Regions from separate parts of the Homo sapiens genome. Here region 2 is linked to region 1. The links come from fine-mapping of genetic effects on plasma protein levels. A gene starts in region 1. The other region holds a variant in brackets. All regions are shown on one strand. Distances are from middle to middle.

Region 1 (5,377 bases):
AAATGAAAGGGTTATTTCGATTTATTGATACAAGAGGCAACTGAACTTGGATCTGTCCTTCAAGATATCCTTGCACAATGAAAACAACAAATGTTATTTTTCTCTGTAAACATTATATAGAGATGTTTCTTCAAGTCTTTTATTTTTGTTTATTTTTTTAATGGACACATTGTAAATGTACATATTTATGGGACCCCCATATCTACAAAAAACACTTAGCTGGCCATGGTGGCACATGCTTGTAGTCCTAGCTACTCAGGAAGCTGAGGCAGGAGAATTGCTTGAGCACAGGTGTTTGAGGCTGCAATGAGCTATGATCATGCCACTGCACTCCAGCCAGGAAACAGCACTCCTTCTGGATAAACAAATTCAAATTCAGAATAAGACCCTGTCAAAGAAAAAAAAAAAAAAGAAAGAAAGAAAAGAAAAAGAAAAAGAAAAAATCAAGTCAGTATTTTTTTTTTTGAGATGGAGTCTAGCTCTGTTGCCCAGTCTGGAGTGCAGTGGCACAACCTCTGCCTCCCAGGTTCAAGTGATTCTCCTGCCTTGGCCTCCCGAGTAGCTGGGACTACAGGTGTGTGCCACCACTCCCGGCTAATTTTTGTATTTTTAGTAGAGATGGGGTTTCACTATATTGGCCAGGCTGGTCTCAAACTCTTGACCTCAAGTGATCCGCCTACCTTGGCCTCCCAAAGTGCTGGGATTACAATCATGAGCCACTGCACCAAGCGTCAAGTCAGTATTTTGCGTGACCATCACCTCATCCATTTCTGATTTCTTTCTTTGTGGTGAGGACATTCAAAGGCCAGAGAGCAAGTCAACAGTAAGTGTGGTGTTTCTTGTAATCCAGCCAGAATCAGTGGATAGAAGTGAGCTAGAAGTTCCTTCTCAGCCCAGTAATAGAATGTATACTGGTTGTGGTGAAGACACATTGCTTCAGAGGTGACATAGGAAAGGAAGGCTGCTGGCCAGGCTATCCTGGACCTGGAATTTGGGGTGCACATTAACCCTTGTTTACAGACCTAAAGAAGTAGTTCTCTATTGGGGGCATTTTTCCCCTGGGGGACATTTGGCAATGTCTGGAGACATTTTTTTGGCTGCCATAACTGGGGAAAGGGGGATTGCTAGTGGTATCTGTTGCATAGAGGCCATCGATGCATCTCTCAACGTGCAAGGCAGTCCCCCTCCCCAAGAAAGAATCATCTAGCCCCAAATATCAATAGTGCCCAAGTTGAGAAACTCCTGGTCTAGAATTTTTATCCTATACTAAAACTTATACCGTGGAGCTTAGCGGATTGGGGAGAGACAAAAATATGCATCTGGTCAAACTCCAGGTCACATTCCTAAAGATTCTGATTTTATTAGTGTGAGGTAGAGCCTGGATATGGTATTTTCATGAAGCTCCCCAGGTGACCCACATAAACAAGGTTGAGAATGACTCCCTGGAAAGTCTGGTCTGATGGAGGCCACAGAATAGACTGACCTCCCCCATTTCCTTGCGACTAGGGGGTTATTTAAGGGTTGTTGGTTCCCTGAAGAGGTAGCAGCAGTGGAGAAACCCACAGGAGATGGAGCGAAGTCCCCCCAAGTGCTAGAGAGGGTAAGATGGACGTTCAAGTCTGGGGCTTTTGTGAGAATTGGGAAATGGCACTCCTTCTGGATAAACAAATTCAGAACTTCTAGGTGAGTGCCCCCAGGGCTCTTAGCCTAGCTATCAGACCAGACTACTGTGGCAGAGAGAAAGATGCCCTTCTAGTGGATGTGGCCCCTGCCAAGACGCAAAGCTCCCTGAACCCAAAGGCATTTGGATTTTGGCTCCCACTTGCCCCTTCCTCTGGATGCCTTTGTACAGTGCCCAAACTGCACAACCTAATGCAGCAACTCCAACTAAAATTTGCCTTAGCTAAGATCTTTCTGAGACAGCAAAGGGGCAACGTATTGCCTTACTGATTTAACAAGAACTAAACAACCAAAACAACAAACAAACAAACAAAACTATGAGAGGCTTACTCAAATGCCTCAAAGAAACCAGATCCGTCCTGCGGGCAGCCTAGAAACCCTGTCCTGATGCCAGGATCCAGCGATGCCAAGCCACAGGGAAGAGGCTCCAGTCTGGTCGTGGTATCTTTGGGGTGGTTGAGAACAACCCAGGAAATGAGGAAATCTGGCTGCAGGAACCTACAGCTGGATCCCCATGGCTGTGGGTGAGACAGAGAACTTTCTGTGCCTTGTGCTCTCCCATCAGCTGATCCTGGAAGGAGAACCTCAAGCCCCATCCTAAACCGCAGCAGAGCAGGCACGCACCCGGTCCAGTCCTTGATTTATTCCTTTGCAAAAGAGAAACAAACTAACAAAAAATCTGTAGTATGGACTTTGACGTCGGCAGAACTACACACCTAAGTTCCAGTCCCTGCTCTGCCAGTAACGGGGGTGAATCTGGGCAAGTTTCTAAGCGTCGGTGTCTTATTGGAGAAAGTGGACATGGTAATAGCGAACTTGGGGCATGGTCGTGAGGATCAAAACAGAGAACATGGCCATAGTATCCGGCCGCAGTGGGCCACTCTGAATCCCCTCGGTTGCCCCTTCTGTTTCCGTGTGACTCACGCAGCTTTCTGCACAGATGGTATCCTTCTAGACGTCTGGGATGTTCGAGGCGGTTGTATTGAATACCGTGTGTGTATTCCGGGTGAGGGGGCGCGCAAATTGGGGCAAAGAAAGCTACTTCAGGATATTTCGCTCTGCTGGGGCTTGTCTCCAGCGCTCTCTGGCCAGAAAAAGCGCTGGCACAAAAGGAGGAGGTGGGTGGGTCAGAGCCCCGAACCGCGCAGTGTTCCAGGGGGGGCGGAGAAAGGAGGGCAGGCCCCAGGCAGGAAGGAGGGAGGGAAAGAGGCGAGAGGAGGAGTTTTCCAGCCCGGCCTTCGCCCGCCCGCTAGCACGCAGTCCCTTGGTCTCTTCGGTCTCCTGCCGCCCCCGGGAAGCGCGCTGCGCTGCCGAGGCGAGCTAAGCGCCCGCTCGCCATGGGGAGCCCCGCACATCGGCCCGCGCTGCTGCTGCTGCTGCCGCCTCTGCTGCTGCTGCTGCTGCTGCGCGTCCCGCCCAGCCGCAGCTTCCCAGGTAGGATCGGAGGCGTGGCTGCCTCCTCAGCTGGGCACCAAAGACCCCCGGAGTCGCCGTTGGGACCCTTCGCTCGGGATAGAGGGAGGTGCCGGGGGCGCCCTTTGTTTGCGCAGAACTCCTCTTTCGCAGCCCGAGGGTGGGGATGATGCGGATCGGGGCTGGTGTCTGGGCACGCGCCGGGAAGAACTGACCATCCCATCTCCAGGCGCGGGGCGCCCTCGCGGCGACGGGAGCCCTAGCACCTTCTGCGTCCGGGCTTCCAGAGTTCCAATCAAACCCTTTTCGGTGTAGGAGGCTCCACAGAGAAAGTTTGGCCGCAGACTAGTTTGCTACTTTCTCACCCCCAGAATTTTGCCTCTCACATGGTTGCCCACTGGAGGCTGGCAGCTTGTCCTGGAAGGAGCCTCTATGCCCTCCCACTACACGTCCCAGGCTACCCCCTTGGGGCCGCAGGACACGAGCCACGGTAAAGCGACTTTTGTGGAAGGCACGGGCGGGGCCTCCCCTGAATCTCTTAACCCCCCCTGCTGGGGATTCCGAGAAAGTCTGCGCCTCTGAGGAAGAATTGCCAGCTGAGAGTGGTGACATGTGGCATGCACTTGATTAGCCCCAGGGAAAGAGGGCTACTCGCGCAAGGATCTGCTGGGCAGAGGGTGCGGCTTATTCCTGGAGGGCGTGGTCTCCGGCATCTAAGGGGGCCCTGGTGTTTCTTGGGGGCTCTCATGGTGTGAGCAAAATTCTCTTTGGAGATGCACTTTAAAAAGCTCCAGCTAACTTCCTCACCCTGGAGTCTTAGGTTAGCGAAGAGCTTCAGGGGAGTAGGGCAATGTGCCATGCACTCCTGTTGCCTCGGAATGGAGAGGAAATCCATGGATGCGTTTTAATTTAGTGTTAATGGGAAAGTGGGTGACGTCGGCTATAGGGCGTGCAAATATTTGGCTCTGCGTTCAACACCGTGGGCAGCTTAAATCTAGGGTATGAGAAATGAACCTACTGAGTTCTGGTAGAAGGATAGAGGATGCCCATCTTTCTAGCAGTGTGCTTGGGAGATGTAGGGATGGCTGCGGGAAATTCTCTGCACGCACCTAAATAAATGAATGAATAGAACAAATTTGTAAATTAATAAACAGGAACATTTGTGTTTTGAGCTGACTCTTAAGTTTTAAGCTGCTTTGTAGGAACTGATTCAGGGTAAAGTGGAAAGGAAATTTTATCCTTACTGCCAGGCAACTGTTATTCCCATGGTGTGTTAATACCTCCTCTCCCACCCCCTTTAGCAGGAATCAGGTTAAAATGAACCTGTAGGGGAAGAGGAAGTCATTAAGCGTCCCAGAAGCAGCTTTCTGGGAGCGGGCAAATAAGGTGAGAAGCTAGAGGTAGCTTTTCCGCACTGAGTTGGGAGGTGCCTGTGAGCTGCCTGGGAACCTCAACTTTTAGTTGAGCCTTTCTCAAGCTGGGGACCCCTTCTCCTTTTCCATCCGACCTCCCTCCGTTCTCCTCCCCTGCCCTCCCCTCTCCTTTCTCTCATCTTCCACCTTTATATAGTACAGCTTGCTACCAGGGCCCAGCCACAGAATCATGAGTTCGCCAGTTTGGGCATTCACTACCACCTGTCTTTTGGGACCTATCCCTGGCTTTCCTGGCTCCCTCTGCCAGCCTGCAAGCTGCTCCCAACTTTTAGCCACCATGTTCCTGCTTGCCACCACCTCCACTGACTCCTAACCTGCCCTCCGGCTCTGCTCAGACCACAAATGAGCTGAAGCTGATTGGAGCTGCTTGATAAACACTCCTCTTGAGCCTCCTTTTGGCATGGCTCAATGGGGTCTCTTGGGAAGTGTGCTCCGCTGAGGTTGTGAGATCCAGAGGAGGGGATTTCAGTCCAAGCCAGAGGCTTTGGAAGGCTGGGGAGGGGAAAATCTCTAGGCCCTTGGGTCTGAAAGCAAATCACATAGGCTGAGTTCACTCTAAGTGCTGGGTGACAAATTTTAAAGATCATTTCAGAGACACTCTCTTAGCAAGTGGACATCATATCTTCAGTAAGAGAGAAAGTGAAGGACTTGAATCTGGAACTTCTGAAAGAAGATGGAGATCTAGGGCTCCATCAGCAAGTCGATTATGTAACTATCTGCACGTGAATAGCACATCTGTCAGAGTGAGAGTAAATCATTCTCATTCCCACTCCTAGAAGGTCTCTGGAGTTCTTCCATCTTAGAATTTAATGCAGCTTTTCTGGCTCTCTGATCTATTTTTTGCAGCCTAG
Region 2 (5,377 bases), 43 kb after region 1:
GGACTCCTGGGAAATACTTATGTCCAAATGGCAGGCTGATCTAGATGTGCTGTCCAGAGAGTCTGTTTAGAAAGGAGGAAGAAAATCGGGAAACTGTTGTCATTTGGAAGCCACTGCAGAAGAGAGCTTCATGAAATGAATGGGTAGTCATTCATACTAAATGCTGTAAATACTGTAGACAAGTTAACCAGGATGACAACCGAGGGCAAAATATATGTATGTGTGTATATGTGTGTTGGAGGGCTGGGCGGGGGGAGAAAGCTTGCTGCTCATGTATCTGGATTTTTTTTTAATTTGGATGATTGAAGGTTCACATGCAGACATGCAGTTCAACTGTTTCCTTGGGTAGATTCCTAGAAGTGGAATGACTTGATCAAAGGGTTTGAGCATAGGCCTTTGATTCATGTTGTTAGGTAGGTTTCCTGGTTTTCATTGTTTTTTGTTTTGTTTTGTTTTTGAGATGGGTTCTCACTATGTTATCCAGGCTGTTTTTTGAACTCCTGGGCTCAAGTAATTCTCCCACTCAGCCTCCCTAGTTTCTGAGATTACAGGCATGAGCCACTGTGTCTGGTTCCAGTGCTCATTTTTTTATATGCAATGATGAATAGTTTGTAATTTTGTACACATCTGGGTGTGCAGAGACAAGGTGAGGAAATCTGCAGCAAAGGAAAATACAGAATTGGGCTTCTGTAGTTGCGGGTCTTTTCCTAATGAACACAGTCCAGCCCTCATCTCCTCTCCACTTTCAGTTTCCACACTCTACATCTCTCATCCAGAACACAAGTGGAACAGGGACCATTACTCATTAGCTGCATGGGGATTTGAATAACCTCACAGTGGAGGATGTTCTTGTCTGTTATGGTGGCAAGTAACTACAACTAAATGCGTGACCAAGACAGAGCTAACTCGAGTCATTAATTAGACTGTGAAGTCTGGAGGGAAGTTCTCTGAATTTAAGATTACAGTTTTGAAGTTTGGCATCTGCTACCACTTCAAGGATTAAGGATTTACTGCTCACTGGAATTCAATATTTAATATTTTAAAAACCATTCAGCTCCAGCTTGCAAATGAGTTAAATTAAAATAATACACAGACGTTCTCTCTGAGGCCGTGGTTTTTATTGGTAGCAACGCTCATTAAGAAATTTTACTGGCTGGGCACGGTGGCTCACGCCTGTAATCCCAGCACTTTGTGAGGCCGAGGCGGGCAGATCATCTGAGGTCGGGAGTTCGCGACCAGCCTGACCAACATGGAGAAATCCCGTCTCTACTAAAAATACAAAATTAGCCAGGCATGGTGGCACATGCCTGTAATTCCAGCTATTCAGGAGGCCGAGGCAGGAGAATCCCTTGAACCCAAGAGGCGGAGGTTGCGGTGAGCCAAAATCACACCATTGCACTCCAGCCTAGCAACAGAGTGAGACTCCGTCTCAAAAAAAAAAAAAAAAAAAGAAATTTTACTTGAGCCATACGTTCATGAGAGGTTCTAAATAAGCACACAGATAGTCTATTTCAGCCTTCATTTCCTACAAATGCTGTATATAGAAGCAACTTTGTGTTTCTTTTGTCAAGATAAGACATTTGATTTACCTCCTTATCTTGCATTTAAATTTATTTCACAAGATGGACCTGTTTTCAGGTACCATAAACACCCAGTTCTACTGGGTTTTCTTTGACTGCTGGGGAAACTGTGGACTGTGTCTGATGCACACATTTTATTGCATCTCCCCTGGCATGAGATTCATATACATTGGCATCTTCTCAGAGTGAAGTTGACTCTCTCTGTTTCCCTATTCCAGAATTTCACTTGGCATATGGTGATTCCAAAACAGTTTGAGGCTCATTTTGCTTGGTTTTTGGCAATCTCAGCTCAGCCGGTTTCACTCTGAGAGATCTCCTGTTTGTTCCTTCATGAATGGCCACAGAAGCTTTTGCTCTTGGCTCTGCATTCTAATAGCACCTCCTGCATGGTCTGTGGCAAAGGAATGCTTTGAAATATGCGTCCATACTATGTGGCTTTTCTTGCTGCAGTTTCTGTTCTTTTTTATTGTAGGATCGGGAGACTCACCACTAGAAGACGATGAAGTCGGGTATTCACACCCTAGATATAAAGGTGAATGCTTTGCTTATGTGCTAATGAGGACCTGCTGGTGCCAGGAGAACTTTCCTTTTTGCCTTGTGAAACAGATTGTAATAAAGTGACCAGACAACACATTTAAGTTCTAATTATCTATCAAGGAAAAAAAAATATATATATATACTCCCTTTTTTAAAAAAGGAAATAAAGCAAAATGCATTGGAAATCTCTGAAATGCTGTCTTTCAGCATCCCAATGGTCATTTTATTCTCATAAGTTTCTTTACTGTCCTCACTTCTGCAAAGGCAGCTGTAGCTGATGAAAGTGAAAATCAAGCCTAATTCATACATTACAGCCAGAATCATCCAGAGTAAACCACCTAAGGTCAAATCTGGACCAAGTGCTGATAATGTACTAAGATGAATGGGGAAGGAGAAAACTTGATTTTCATAAGCTCATTTCATCGTGCTCTTTCTGAGCCCAGCATGGCTTCTGAAACGGTATGTTAAAGTATGTTGCTCAAATGAAACTTAATGATAAAGAACTCCATCTCTACATATTCCCAGCAATCCACTCCCCAGCACGTATAAAAAGCCTAAACAAGAACCTTCTGTCCAGACTCAGGTAAGTATGTCCACAAATATTTCTACTGGTGAAACATTTCTCTGAAGCTTAGGGAAACCTGGGAGAAATGAAGGTAAATTTAGAGATGCTTTCTCTCTGAATCTAGTTCCTCTTACAGTGGAGGAAGAATTTGAAAAAAAAAAAAAAATGGTTAACAAAGTTTCACTGCGGCATTTTGCCCTGGAAATTTGTCCTAATTCCTGGGATGAGGACATGGCCCTTGTTTGTTGTGATGTGTCTCAGATACAGGAGAATCAGGGTAGGACTGGACAACTTTTGACTGGAGATGTCCTTCAGTTGTTTTCTACACAAGTGAACAATATTTCCAATATAATGACTGGTGCCTGGTGCTTATGTGCAGGTGTGCTTCCCATCACATACCACATTTTTTTGTGAGATCTGAATGCAAATACTCATTCCTACCTATAGTTTCTATCTCCATAGCCTCAGGAATTAACCAATCAAGCAAAGCACAAATACGTTAATCAGATGCTTGGGGTAAGGAAAGGTTCTAATTCGCAAAACTTCTTAACTATTTATGGGTTTAGATTTTTTTTTCTTTGAGTCCCTTGTTGAAAAATCTTCCTAAAACACATGCATGCACAGATGACC[C/T]TTCACATCTACAGCAGGGGTTGCCTAGTGCCCTCAGGTCCTTGTTCTTCACATCCATCTTCACCTCACAGCATTGCAAATGTGACAGGTAGACCAGATGGCCAAAATGTGTGCTTGCCCTAGAACTTACCCTGAATGTTTAAGAATAAATTTTCTTAGGGCATTGTTTCTATTGTCAGTTAAATTGCTTACTGGTAGCAATCATTTCAGTATGTATAAGTATATCAAAGCATCATGTTGTGCGCTTCATACAATAAAATTTAAGTTTTATTTATTTTTATTATTATTTTTTGAGATGGAGTCTCACCCTGTCACCCAGGCTGTAGTGCAGTGGCGTGATCTTGGCTCACTGTAACATCCGCCTCCCAGGTTCAAGCGATTCTCCTATCTTAGCCTCCCAGGTAGCTGGGACTACAGGCACACGCCACCACACCCAGCTAATGTTGCATTTTTAGTACAGACAGGGGTTTCACTATGTTGGCCAGGCTGGTCTCGAACTCCTAACCTCAGGTGATCCACCCACCTTGGCCTCCCAAAGTGCTGGGATTACAGGCGTGAGCCACTGCACCTGGCCAAGTTTTTTTAATTTTAAAAGCTAGAGACAAGCCATTATTAAGTGAGGGTTTAGTTTTAGATCCTGAGGCCCCTGCACAATGTCCAGCACAGAGTAAGTGTTTTTGAATTAAAGTAAAATAAGAAAGAAAATTAAATGTAACCAACATTTACGGTGCTCCTGGTATGTGGCAAGCATGGCTTTTGATTCTTTTGCTTGGAATACCATCATATATTCATATTAATTGAGTGAGTTTGTGATGTATGAGTATGCAGGTCATATATATACATACATTAGTTCCCCCTTATCTGCGGTTTCACTTTCCAAGGTTCCATTTACCTTCAGTCAACCGCAGCCCCAAAATATTAGATATTTTGAGAGAGAGACAGTACATTCACCTAACTTTCATTACAGTATATTGTTATAATTGTTCTATATTATTATTAGTTGTTGTTAATCTTTTATCATGCCTAATTTATAAATTAAACTTCATCATAGGTATGTTTGTGTAAGAAACAAACAGTATATATAGCGTTAGGTACTATCCAAGGCTTCAGGCATCCAATATCCCCCGTGGGCAAAGGGGGAGTACTGTATATCACAAATATATGTAGTACATACAGATTATATTAAAACCCTTAGAGGAAGGAAAATTTATTCAAGGAAGTTCTTTAGGCCTTGTGTGAGCTCCTACACGTTTATATCCACATGGTTAAATTTAATCAGCTCTAGGTTAAGCCTTTAGGACATCACCTTTACCTAGAAAGTCCAGGGAAGATTACTTGAGTCTTGAGTTTAGGGCTCACTTGCAGCTGTCTGCAAAACATGATATGACGAAAGTATTAGCCAGACCAGGGACGGTGGTGCGTGCCTGTAGTTCCAGCTACTTGGGAAGCTGAGACAGGAGGATCACTTGAGCCTAGGAGGCCGAGACTGCAGTGAGCAATGATCATGCCACTACACTCCAGCCTGGGTGACAGAGTGAGACCCTGTTTCTAAAAAAGAAAAAAAAAAGAGAAAGTATTAGCTGAAGGAAATGTGAAGGCAAAACTAAAACAGTGGTCTATGCATAAGACGTGGCCAGAACTGTTGGTTTTTGTAACTGAGAAGCAGTTGGAGGCATATCCTCAGAAGAGAATTCCTGGGAAAGTAAAACAGGGTCTGTCCTCCTTCCTGGCCACATGATGGCGGTCTTACCTCACTCACTGACAGCTCAGGTGCTGGGTTGGAGTGATGAGCCAGGCAGTTGCAGGGAAGTGGCTCCTATTCATGGCATTGAGAGCCCGGCAGGCTTTAGGGAACTCCTCACTGTTCCCCATCAATTGTGGGACAATGGGGCAGTGGCTGCTGTAGGAACTTATCCACCAAGGAGCTAGTGTTGCCCTTATATTTTATGGATCTCAAAGAGAACATTTCAAAAGCACAGCAGGGAGGTTCTGATTTATTCATTTCATCCCAGCTGTGCTTTGGGCAACTATGAGACCAAAATCAAAACACCTGCAACTTTGCCAT

Alleles and levels. Positions count from the first base shown, and alleles are read on the strand shown. Strength reflects both the effect of a copy and how common the allele is.
For the plasma level of the protein whose gene starts at base 2,939 in region 1, T is the high allele of the variant in region 2 and C is the other (moderate association).

The links. A credible set is the group of variants that fine-mapping cannot tell apart. PIP is the chance, under the fine-mapping model, that this variant and not a neighbour inherited with it causes the effect. The UK Biobank Pharma Proteomics Project read protein levels with antibody pairs (Olink). The fine-mapping took linkage between variants from a reference panel, not from the people measured, so its PIPs are less certain.
Region 2: its variant is the best candidate, but not a certain one, in a credible set for the plasma level of the SRPX protein (UK Biobank, PIP 0.53).

What each region holds. Positions count from the first base shown.
Region 1 is chrX:38,218,433-38,223,809 of GRCh38, reverse strand. SRPX (sushi repeat containing protein X-linked) reads left to right here and starts at 2,939. Exons shown (of 10, transcript NM_006307.5): 1 at 2,939-3,114. The coding sequence starts at 3,018. LOC124905176 (a long non-coding RNA gene) reads right to left here and starts at 2,902. Exons shown (of 2, transcript XR_007068212.1): 1 at 2,011-2,902; 2 at 118-388.
Region 2 is chrX:38,175,020-38,180,396 of GRCh38, reverse strand. It overlaps SRPX (sushi repeat containing protein X-linked), which reads left to right. Exons shown (of 10, transcript NM_006307.5): 2 at 2,053-2,112. Among named protein-coding and RNA genes, the nearest start is that of SRPX, 43 kb to the left of the region's middle. The variant C/T (reference allele first, on the strand shown) is at 3,313.